3 linked regions of the Homo sapiens genome follow. The protein of the gene in region 2 interacts with the protein of the main gene of each other region in a pairwise test. Each region holds a gene or a part of one and is shown on either strand. Other genes may lie near its edges. The genes, in order: ZNF417, OIP5 and KRTAP13-2.

Region 1 (3,657 bases), on a different chromosome or scaffold from region 2:
CGTCAGAGGTACTTTGCACTTGACCAGCATTTTCTTGCTCTCAGGTTGTTGGTGTGGATCAAAAGATGAGGAGGCACCTTGTAAGCAGAGAATTTCTGTACAAAGAGAGTCTCAGAGCAGGACTCCTAGGGCAGGTGTTTCTCCTAAGAAGGCTCACCCCTGTGAAATGTGTGGCCTCATCTTGGAGGATGTTTTTCACTTTGCTGACCACCAGGAAACTCATCACAAGCAGAAGCTGAACAGGAGTGGAGCATGTGGAAAAAACTTGGATGACACTGCATACCTTCATCAGCACCAGAAGCAGCATATTGGAGAGAAATTCTACAGAAAGAGTGTCAGAGAAGCATCGTTTGTAAAGAAACGTAAGCTCAGGGTGTCACAGGAGCCATTTGTCTTCCGCGAGTTTGGGAAGGACGTTCTGCCCAGTTCAGGATTGTGCCAAGAAGCAGCTGCTGTAGAGAAGACAGACAGTGAAACTATGCATGGCCCACCCTTTCAGGAGGGAAAAACTAATTACAGTTGTGGAAAACGCACAAAAGCCTTCAGCACCAAACACTCAGTTATTCCACACCAGAAACTTTTCACTAGAGATGGATGTTATGTGTGCAGTGATTGTGGAAAATCCTTTAGCAGATATGTCAGCTTCAGTAATCATCAGCGAGATCACACTGCAAAAGGACCTTATGATTGTGGAGAGTGTGGGAAATCTTATAGTCGAAAGAGCAGCCTTATTCAACATCAGCGAGTCCACACTGGAAAGACAGCTTATCCCTGTGAGGAGTGCGGGAAATCTTTTAGTCAGAAGGGCAGCCTTATTAGCCATCAGCGTGTTCACACTGGAGAAAGGCCTTATGAGTGTAGAGAATATGGGAAATCTTTTGGTCAAAAGGGTAACCTCATTCAACATCAGCAAGGTCACACTGGAGAGAGAGCTTATCACTGTGGGGAATGTGGGAAATCTTTTCGTCAGAAGTTCTGCTTTATTAACCATCAGCGTGTTCACACTGGAGAAAGGCCTTACAAGTGTGGAGAATGTGGAAAATCTTTTGGTCAAAAGGGCAACCTCGTTCAACATCAGCGAGGTCATACTGGAGAAAGGCCCTATGAGTGCAAGGAATGTGGGAAATCATTTAGGTACAGATCCCACCTCACTGAACACCAGAGACTTCACACTGGGGAAAGACCTTACAATTGTAGGGAATGTGGGAAATTATTTAACAGGAAGTATCATCTTCTCGTTCATGAGAGAGTTCACACTGGAGAAAGGCCATATGCGTGTGAGGTATGTGGGAAATTATTTGGTAATAAGAACTGCGTGACTATACATCAGAGGATTCACACTGGAGAAAGGCCGTATGAATGCAATGAATGTGGGAAATCATTTCTTTCCAGCTCTGCGCTTCATGTTCATAAAAGAGTTCATTCTGGACAAAAGCCTTATAAGTGCAGTGAATGTGGAAAATCCTTTGCTGAATGTTCCAGTCTCATTAAACACAGGAGAATTCACACTGGAGAAAGGCCTTATGAATGTACCAAATGTGGAAAAACATTTCAGCGAAGCTCTACCCTCCTTCATCATCAGAGTTCACACAGGAGAAAGGCCTTATGAGTGCAGTGAATATGGGAAATCGTTTGCTGAAACATCCCGTCTCATTAAACACAGGAGAGTTCATACTGGAGAAAGGCCTTATGAGTGCTGTCAATCTGGGAAACATCAGAATGTCTGCTCTCCTTGGTCTTAAGAGACTTCGCATTGGAACGGAGTCTCATTCTGTCACCCAGGCTGGAGTGCAGTGGTGCAATCTTGGCTCACTGCAACTTGGGCCTCCCAGGTTCAAGTGATTCTCCTACCTCAGCCTCCCAAGGAGCTGAGATTACGAGTACACCACACCATGCCCGGCCAAATACTTGGTTTTCAGTACCACAAGAGCTATGAGCTGGTTATCCACTTCATGTGGAATCATAAGTGTCCCCAAGTGACAATACGTATAGATTGCTGGGCAGTGAAACAGTTAAGATGTCACCGTAGCTTGCTTTCTATTCAACATCTTTCTAAGATTACCTTACTATTTCTTTTGTTCCAAGTTTGTATTTCCTCAGAGTTCTCACATATGGAAAGGATACACACTTTGTAGAAACAAGAACTTTATGTTATCCAAGTTCTGGGATAGCCATGAGCTCCAATTACCTCAGAGCTCCGAGTCCTCTACTCAGTACCCGTTGAGATTTATGTGTTCTGAGGCTTTTGTCTTCTAGCTACTTACTTCATTCTCCATGGGTAACGTCATTCATCCACATTAACTAATTTCCTCACTCCAAGCTCTTTTCTGGAGATAATCTCCAGTCCCTGTGCAGACACTGTCATTGCACTTTCTGCTGAAATGGTAGTTTCTTGCCAGCAAGGTGAGATTATGGAATCCAGAATCTTTTTTCAGGGGCCACATGCCCATTTCCCCACTTGCATGAATGTCGACACTGTAGCCACAGTTTTGGCCGTAAATGTGAATTTGGCAAGTAACCACTGTTCCCAAATTGGGAAATGTCCCAGTCAGAAGAAGATTATCTGGGACACTGATACTGACAGGGAGATGGGACATTCTGAGGGACCCGGAGGCAGGGAGCCACCTCCTCAGCTTCCCTGAGGGCTGCCTAGAATCTCTCTTGTTTCCTCTCACTCTGAATTATTCTTCCTCTCATGACTGACCAAACACATGGAACCTCACAAAGTCCATTTTAAGAGCTTTATCTTGTGAAGTGAAGAACATGAAGATAGTTTGAATCAAAGTTATTGAGTGGACACTTAATGTCTTTATAACATTTTTTACATATGTGTTTGTGTTTTTTGGGGAGCATAATTTGCAAATGGAATATCTGTTATTTTACTAAGATGCTTCATGGATACAAGAGTTAAAACTTCCTGTCCCATTTAGTGAAACAAAAGGTTAAGAAATGTGGATAAAGCTTGTAAGTTAGAAATGGCAAGATAATCAGCTATATGAAGAATCTCAGCTGGGTGTTTTGGCTCAGGCCTGTAATCCCAGCACTTTGGGAGGCTGAGGTGGGTGGCTTACAAGGTCAGGAGTTCAAGACCACCCTGGACAATATGGTGAAACCCTGTCTCTACTAAAAATACAAAAATTACCCAAGCATAGTGGTGGGTGCCTGTAGTCCCAGCTGCTTGGGAGGCTGAGGCAGGAGAATTCGTTAAACCTGGGAGGCATAGGTTGCAGTGAGCCGAGATTGCACCACTGCACTCCAGCCTGGTGACAGAGCGAGACTCCGTCTCAAAAAAAAAAAAAAAAAAAAAAAAAAATCTCAATCCCTAAATGTTACCTTTTATAACAGCAGGTTATATGGGCTTAGATATTATCCCTAAATTTTTTTTTTTTTTTTTTTTTGAGACAGAGTCTCACTCTGTCACCCAGGCTGAAGTGCAATGGCATGGTCTCGGCTCACTGCAACCTCCGCCTCCCAGGTTCAAGTGATTCTCTTGCCTCAGCCTCCCAAGTAGCTGGGCCTATAGGTTCCCTCCACCACGCCCACCTAATTTTTGTATTTTTAGTAGAGATGGGCTTTCACTACGTTAGCCAGGCTGGTCTCAAACTTGTGACCTCATGATCCACCCCCCTCAGCCTCCTAAAGTGCTGGGATTACAGG
Region 2 (3,657 bases):
TGCTTGAAGCCAGGGGGCAGAGGTTTCAGTGAGCCGAGATAATGCCACTGGACTCTAGCCTAGGTGACAGAGTGTGACTCCATCTCAAAAAAACAAACAAACAAAAAAGCAGTATCTGCAAGTGCAGTAAAACACAGTATATTTTATTGAATATTACTATAAAACAAGGAAAAGAAAATTGCAATAAGTTCAGATAGTGAGATTAATGATATAGCGGTGCCTCAGTGGCTAAACCATGGTTTATGATTTAAAAAAATTTATCCTAAGTTGACCACTGTAGAAGAAAAAAAGAACTTCATTCCCACACTTTGCCTCTGATCATGTGTATAGTCTGTGGCTCCTTATTGTTTTTTGTTTGTGATTTTTTGAGATGGAGTTTCGCTCATTCCCCAGGCTGGAGTGCAATGGCGTGATCTTGGCTTACCACAACCTCCGTCTCCTAGGTTCAAGTGATTCTCCTGACTCGGCCTCCCAAGTGAGTAGCTGGGATTACAGGCGTGCACCACCACGCTTGGCTAATTTTGTCTTTTACTAGACACGGGGTTTCCCCGTGTTGGCCAGGCTGGTCTCGAACTCCTGACCTCAGGTGATCTGCACACCTAGGCCTTCCAAAGTGCCGGCATTACAGGTGTGAGCCACCGTGCCCGGCCCCATGTTTTTAACAATCTTACCACAGTAGGTACTACGTCTCTAACCATCCGTGCTGAGCTGCTTTGGGTTGCCTTGCTCTGCCACTAAGGGTTAGCATCACCTAGCTTGCTGGGCCTTCCATCATTACATTGGATCATGGGCACTGGAGAATATTATAGGAGGAAAATACTTCCAATACACTACCAAATACAACTGTTTCTCCATATCCTTATCAGTAGAATGAGGTCAACTAGATTATGTTATTTTTTTGGTTATAACAGTCTGTGAATCTACAAGACAACAGGAAGTAATACCAAAGTGATGAAGAGTTGATTTACTGTATGTGATTTGTTTCAAAATACTCCAGGAATTAAAAAAAAAAAAAAGTGAAGAGTATAGAGGAAAATAATTGTCAAAATATTAATAACTGTTGAAACTGGGTACCTGGGGCTTATTATAGTGTTTGTGGTATGTTTAAATTTTTTTTTTTTCTGAGATGGAGTCTTCCTCTTGTCACCCAGGTTGGAGTGCAATGGTGTGATCTCGGCTCACTGCAACCTCCGCCTCCTGGGTTCAAGCGATTCTCCTGCCTCAGCCTCCCCAGTAGCAGGGATTACAGGCGCCCACCACCACGCCCAGCAAATTTTTGTATTAGTAGAGATGGGGTTTCGCTATGTCATCCAGGCTGGTGTTGAACTCCTGACCTCGTGATCCTCCCGCCTCGGCCTCCCAAAGTGCTGGGATTACAGGCGTGAGTCACTGTACCCAGCCAGAATTGGGATATATCTTTAAAAAGAAAAGAGGCTGGGCGCAGTGGCTCACGCCTGTAATCCCAACACTTTGGGAGGCTGAGGTGGGAGGATCACGAAGTCAGGAGATTAAGACCATCCTGGCCAACATGGTGAAACCCCGTCTCTACTAAAATACATAAAATTAGCCAGATGTGGTGGCATGCACCTGTAGTCCCAGTTACTCGGGAGGCTGAGGCAGGGGAATCACTTGAACCCGGGAGGCGGAGTTTGCAGTGAGCCAAGATCCTGCCACTGCACTTCAGCCTGGGCTACAGAGCAAGACTCCATCTCAAAAAAATAAAAAATAAAATAAAATAATTGAAAAGAAAGGCTGAGTGCAGTGGCTCATGCTTGTAATGCCAGCACTTTGGGAAGCAAAGGTGGGCAGATCACTTGAGTTCAGGAGTTCAAAACCAGCCTGGGCAACATGTTGAAACCCTATCTCTACAACAAATTAGCTGGGCATGGTGGTGCATGCCTTATAGTCCTAGCTACTTGGGAGGCTGAGGTGAAAGGATGGCTTGAGCCTGGGAGGCGGAGGTTGTTCTCCATCCTGGGTAAAAGAGCCAGACTCCATCTCAAAAAATAAATAAATAGAAAAAAGTTTCTTATAAAGATCCTTACCAAAATATTTATGGATGGAATGATGTAATTTCAGGTATCTGCTTCAAAACATTGTGGAGGATAGATATTTTGTTTTGTTTTAGAGATGAAGTCTCGCTATGTTGCTCATGATGGTCTTGAACTCCTGGGTTCAAGTGATCCTCCCACCTTGGCCTCCAAAAGTGTTGGGATTACAGGCGTGAGCCAGCATGATAAGCCAACTATGATTTTAGATGAAACAAGATTGGCCAAGAGTTGATAAGTGCTCTAGTTTAGTGACAGGTAGACAGAGGTTCATTATATTCTTCTCTCGGGTTTGAATTTGCCATAACAATTAGAAAAAAATGTACTTCACTTATAATACAAACAAAATTCCATTTAAATATGCTGTTGAGCACAACAAAAGCTCAGGGTAAAAAAGCTATTTCTAAGTGTCAACATACTATAATAATCCTTTTTAAAATTAGTTACAATAAATCCTCTACCAGTAAGAGAACAATAAAATGTAGACGGAAGTAACCTTGTATCTGTCTACTTTATGACTTTGAATCTAAGAGGTTCATGCCAATTGTAGAATGTTTAAATAAATGTCGGAGGGAGTATATTTTAGGAGTATTCAAATATGACAGATTGAGAGGGATCAATTTATTTCACATGCCTCATTAAGAGTAAAGTTAAGGCCTGGTGCGGTGGCTCACACCTGTAATCCCAGCACTTTGGGAGGCTGAGGCAGGTGGATCACAAGGTCAGAAGTTCGAGACCAGCATGGCCAACATGGTGAAACCCCGTCTCTACTAAAAATATAAAAATACAAAAATTAGCCAGGCATAGTGGCGTGCGCCTGGAATCCCAGCTACTCGGGAGGCTGAGGTAGGAGAATAGCTTGAACCCGGGAGGCGGAGGTTGCAGCGAGCCAAGATCCCGCCACTGTGCTCCAGCCTGGGTCAGAGCAAGACTCCATCTCAAAAAAAAAAAAAAAAAAAAAAAAAAAAGAATAAAAAGAACCCGAGTCTGCTGTCTCTAAAATTTATGCTCTTTTAGCTGCATCATTAATCATCCTCTTAATTCATTCTCTGACCCCATCTAGGTAATGAACCTACACTTAGAAAAAAATCAAGTTGTCTTGAGCTGTGCCATTTCATAACCCTCTTCGTAAGTCCCATATAGCTCATCTTACTCCACAAATACAGAAACACATGGGGCTTTCCCTCTAGTTTTTTTTTTTTTTTTTTTTCAGACGGAGTCTCGATCTGTCGTCCAGGCTGGAGTGTAGTGGTGCGATCTTGGCTCACTGCAACCTCTGCTTCCCAGGTTCAAGCCATTCTCCTGCCTCAGCCTCCCAAGTAGCTGGGACTATAGGCGCTTGCCACCTCGCCCCCCTAATTTTTGTACTTTTAGTAGAGACGTGGTTTCACCATACTGGCCAGGCTGGTCCCGAACTCCCGACCTTGTGATCTGCCTGCCTTGGCCTCCCAAAGTGCTGGGATTATAGGTGTAAGCCACTGCACCTGGCCTTCCTCCAGTTTTTTACAAAGCATCTAAACAAGCATTGTCTAATAGGAATATAATGTGAGTCACATATGTAATTTTAAATTTTCTATTCATTTTGCTTTTTTTTTTGAGGAAGAGTCTC
Region 3 (3,039 bases), on a different chromosome or scaffold from region 2:
AGAAAACACAAAGGTCATAATAGTTCTATAAATTTATGATTTATAAATATACATTTAAAACAAGCCAAAGTATTTCTCCCTATAACTGTTTCCATTACTCACAGTTGTAAACCTTAAGTCTTTCTGTCTTCTGTGCTCTCTCTCTCTTTCTCACACACACACAACACAAACACACACACACACTGAATAATTAATTTTCTCCTATATTTAAACACAACCGTAATGTCCTCCAGTACCTAACATTTCATATTTTCCCTTTTCCATCATAACATTTCAGATTTATTCAAATATTTCATAATTTTATATTTAATCACCTAGTTGACATCTTCTGAGAAAACTCTAAATACTCTTTTAAAAATGTAAACAAAAAGCAAATATGATTGTCAGCAAAATGTGTCTTCCTTGAAAACACACCACCATTATGAGTGTACTCTCAATAATTCTGTTAAGAATCCAACCAGTTTTCATGGCAGAAGACATGCACTTGCTCAGTCTTTTAGGCACTGGCATGCCCGGAGAATCTCCCCACACACTAGGCCTGATGACATTACCGATGGAAATGGATGTCCAAGGAAAAGACGTCTGGGGGCCTGGAGCCCCCAAAACAGATCACAAATCAAACTTTGGAAACCAATAAAAGACAAAGAGAACATATTGGAATCAACAGTAAATGAATTTATTACGTGAAACAAAACTGAACTTCCATATACTTTATAAGATGAACTTACGTGATAACGAATCACTTGTTTCAAAATTATAGACATTTGACTCTATATTTTGCTCATTCATTAATTTCACAGTCTGAAAGAACTAGCCTGTCCAGCCAGTACTTGATGCCAGAGAAAGGATGAAGAGCTAGTAGTAAGAGGGGTTAGCTCACATTGCTGGAAATGCCTATGATAACAGCTCTACGTAGAGACTGAGACACTTTGCTTAAAAGGTCTGGAAATTCAGCAAGTTGATCTGCAGAAGGTTGATCCATAGGCTGGTCTGTAACAAGGAGACTGGCAGCTCCTAGAAGCCAAGTAGGTTGGGCGGCAGAATCCAGATCCATAGCCGAGGGAAGGGAAGCCACAGCTTCCATAACCCAGGGATCTGACACCACTGGACCCACAGCCCACTGAGTAGCAGCTCCTCGATCCATAGCCCAGGGAGCGGCAGCTGCTGGATCCAAAGCCTAGAGACCCAGAGTAAGTCGTCTTGCAAGGACTGCAGAGCAAGGAGGTTCTGGGGCGGTAGCAGGAGGTCTGGCAGGGGCTGGACTCCACATAGGACGTCTGGCAGCTGGTGGGCTCCCAGCAGATCTCCTGACAGCCCCTATAGAGAGAGGAACCCAGCTGGCAGGTGCTGGGAGAGCAGAGGTCAGTGCTGTAGACCAGATTGCTGGGGTAGGAAAAGCCACGTGAGGATGCTGGGTAGCGCAGGTAGTCACCACAGGAGCGGGAGGAGAAGTTTCCAGAGCAGCAGTTGTAGGACATGTTGACGGGAGATGTGAGTTCAGCTGAGTTATAGTGGAAAGATTCTCTGAGTTTGAATGTCATAGTCTGGACTCCAAGTTATATATGCTCTTAGACCTGGGTGTGTCCACTGTCTCGACACTCCCTTCTCCTTGCTCACTTTTTATTATAAGAATGCTTCCCTAGGTTATTGTTTAATTTATCACATCTTCATATACTTACTTGTACTTTAGTCACTCTGGAACACTTAGAAGGAAGCCACTCAGTTTTTTTTTTTCCTGGAATTCACTGTGGTTTGACCTTCAATGTTATATGTCATCACATTTATGAGTATCTTGCCTCTTATTATTTGAGTACAGTGAGTCCTTATTGTACCAAATGGAATTACACAAAATTCTTTCTTTACTTCCCTTAAGTTATCAGGAGCATCAGTGGTTACTACTCAAAATAGATTGTCCTTCTTTTTAACACAAGCATATTATTTGTTACCAGAAACGGAGGATTTCTCCAAATACTAACTGTATTCAGTAGCCTCAGCAATCTGTCAGTTAAACCTTTTACTAGTACCTTAAGAGCTCAGGATCAGAACTGAGGAGTGCAGCATTATGTTGGGTGTCCATATCAGGCATCTTCCTTAACAAGAGGCTACTTTAGACAATGCTCACTTAGGAAACAATAAACACAAACTTTTTAGTAAGACTTTAAATTGAAGTTTTTCAGATATTTTCTGATGAACCTATCTTGTAGCAAGCACTATTCTATGGTTATGCTCTAAATCAACTCATAAATTTTATTTTGTTTTATGTTTCAATTTTTTTTTCTGGATAAAAGGACAGATTCTTAGCTGCAATTATTAATTTATACTTAAACTTTGAGGAATTGTTAACATTTTTCTGAAGCTTTTAACTTGAAGTATTAGAGTTATATGGGTCTTTAAACATCCCCTGTTCAACCCATACATGGAAAAATTACCTCTCAGAGAGCTTTAACTTTCCCCTAATTTCTCAGTAAGATAGAAGCAAAATTGAAGCTTTAATTATGGTTTTCTTATTCAGAGTCAAGTTGCAAATACCTTGCAAATATAAAAGTAAATTCAACTTTAACTTGTCTCAGAAAAGAAACTATTAAGCTTATTTATACTAAGATATAAAAGCCTAACAAAGCCTTATTTACTTTTCCTAACAATATTCACACTGAATAGTGTTCAACTGGGGAATTCTATGCCTTACTGATCTTCATACATTTGAAGTATATTTCACTTCCTAGCCCAAGAAAGAGAAAGAATATTGGTAATCCATGTTTAGATTAATGGGGGGAAGAGGCTTCTTATCTGTGTCTATTCTTCTTCTTTTGAATTTGACATTTTATTTGGTTTAACTAAGGGAAATGGCATTCACAATGGTTATCGAAAAGAGAGCCTCTTAACTACCTGAAAATTAACTTCCTTCATTCCAAAGCACACTGTTTCAGAGCACTTAGTTACTTTGTTTTATGATTATCTCTCCCATGCAGAATCCAAAGTGTGGCATGCATCACATGAAGTGCCCTTGTGCAATACTTAAACCATCACTCTGATTCACTG

Evidence for each region.
Region 1: the proteins of OIP5 (region 2) and ZNF417 interact in binary tests that used the Homo sapiens proteins (3 or more experiments, as listed by UniProt).
Region 3: the proteins of OIP5 (region 2) and KRTAP13-2 interact in binary tests that used the Homo sapiens proteins (3 or more experiments, as listed by UniProt).

Annotation. Positions count from the first base shown.
Region 1 is NC_000019.10:57,906,502-57,910,158, reverse strand, and holds part of ZNF417 (zinc finger protein 417), read left to right. Parts: intron 1-44; coding exon 45-1,609; 3' UTR 1,610-3,657. UniProt on the Homo sapiens protein: May be involved in transcriptional regulation.
Region 2 is NC_000015.10:41,326,076-41,329,732, forward strand, and holds part of OIP5 (protein Mis18-beta), read right to left. Parts: intron 1-3,657. UniProt on the Homo sapiens protein: Required for recruitment of CENPA to centromeres and normal chromosome segregation during mitosis.
Region 3 is NC_000021.9:30,370,736-30,373,774, forward strand, and holds KRTAP13-2 (keratin-associated protein 13-2), read right to left. Parts: upstream 1,537-3,039; 5' UTR 1,479-1,536; coding exon 951-1,478; 3' UTR 655-950; downstream 1-654. UniProt on the Homo sapiens protein: In the hair cortex, hair keratin intermediate filaments are embedded in an interfilamentous matrix, consisting of hair keratin-associated proteins (KRTAP), which are essential for the formation of a rigid and resistant hair shaft through their extensive disulfide bond cross-linking with abundant cysteine residues of hair keratins.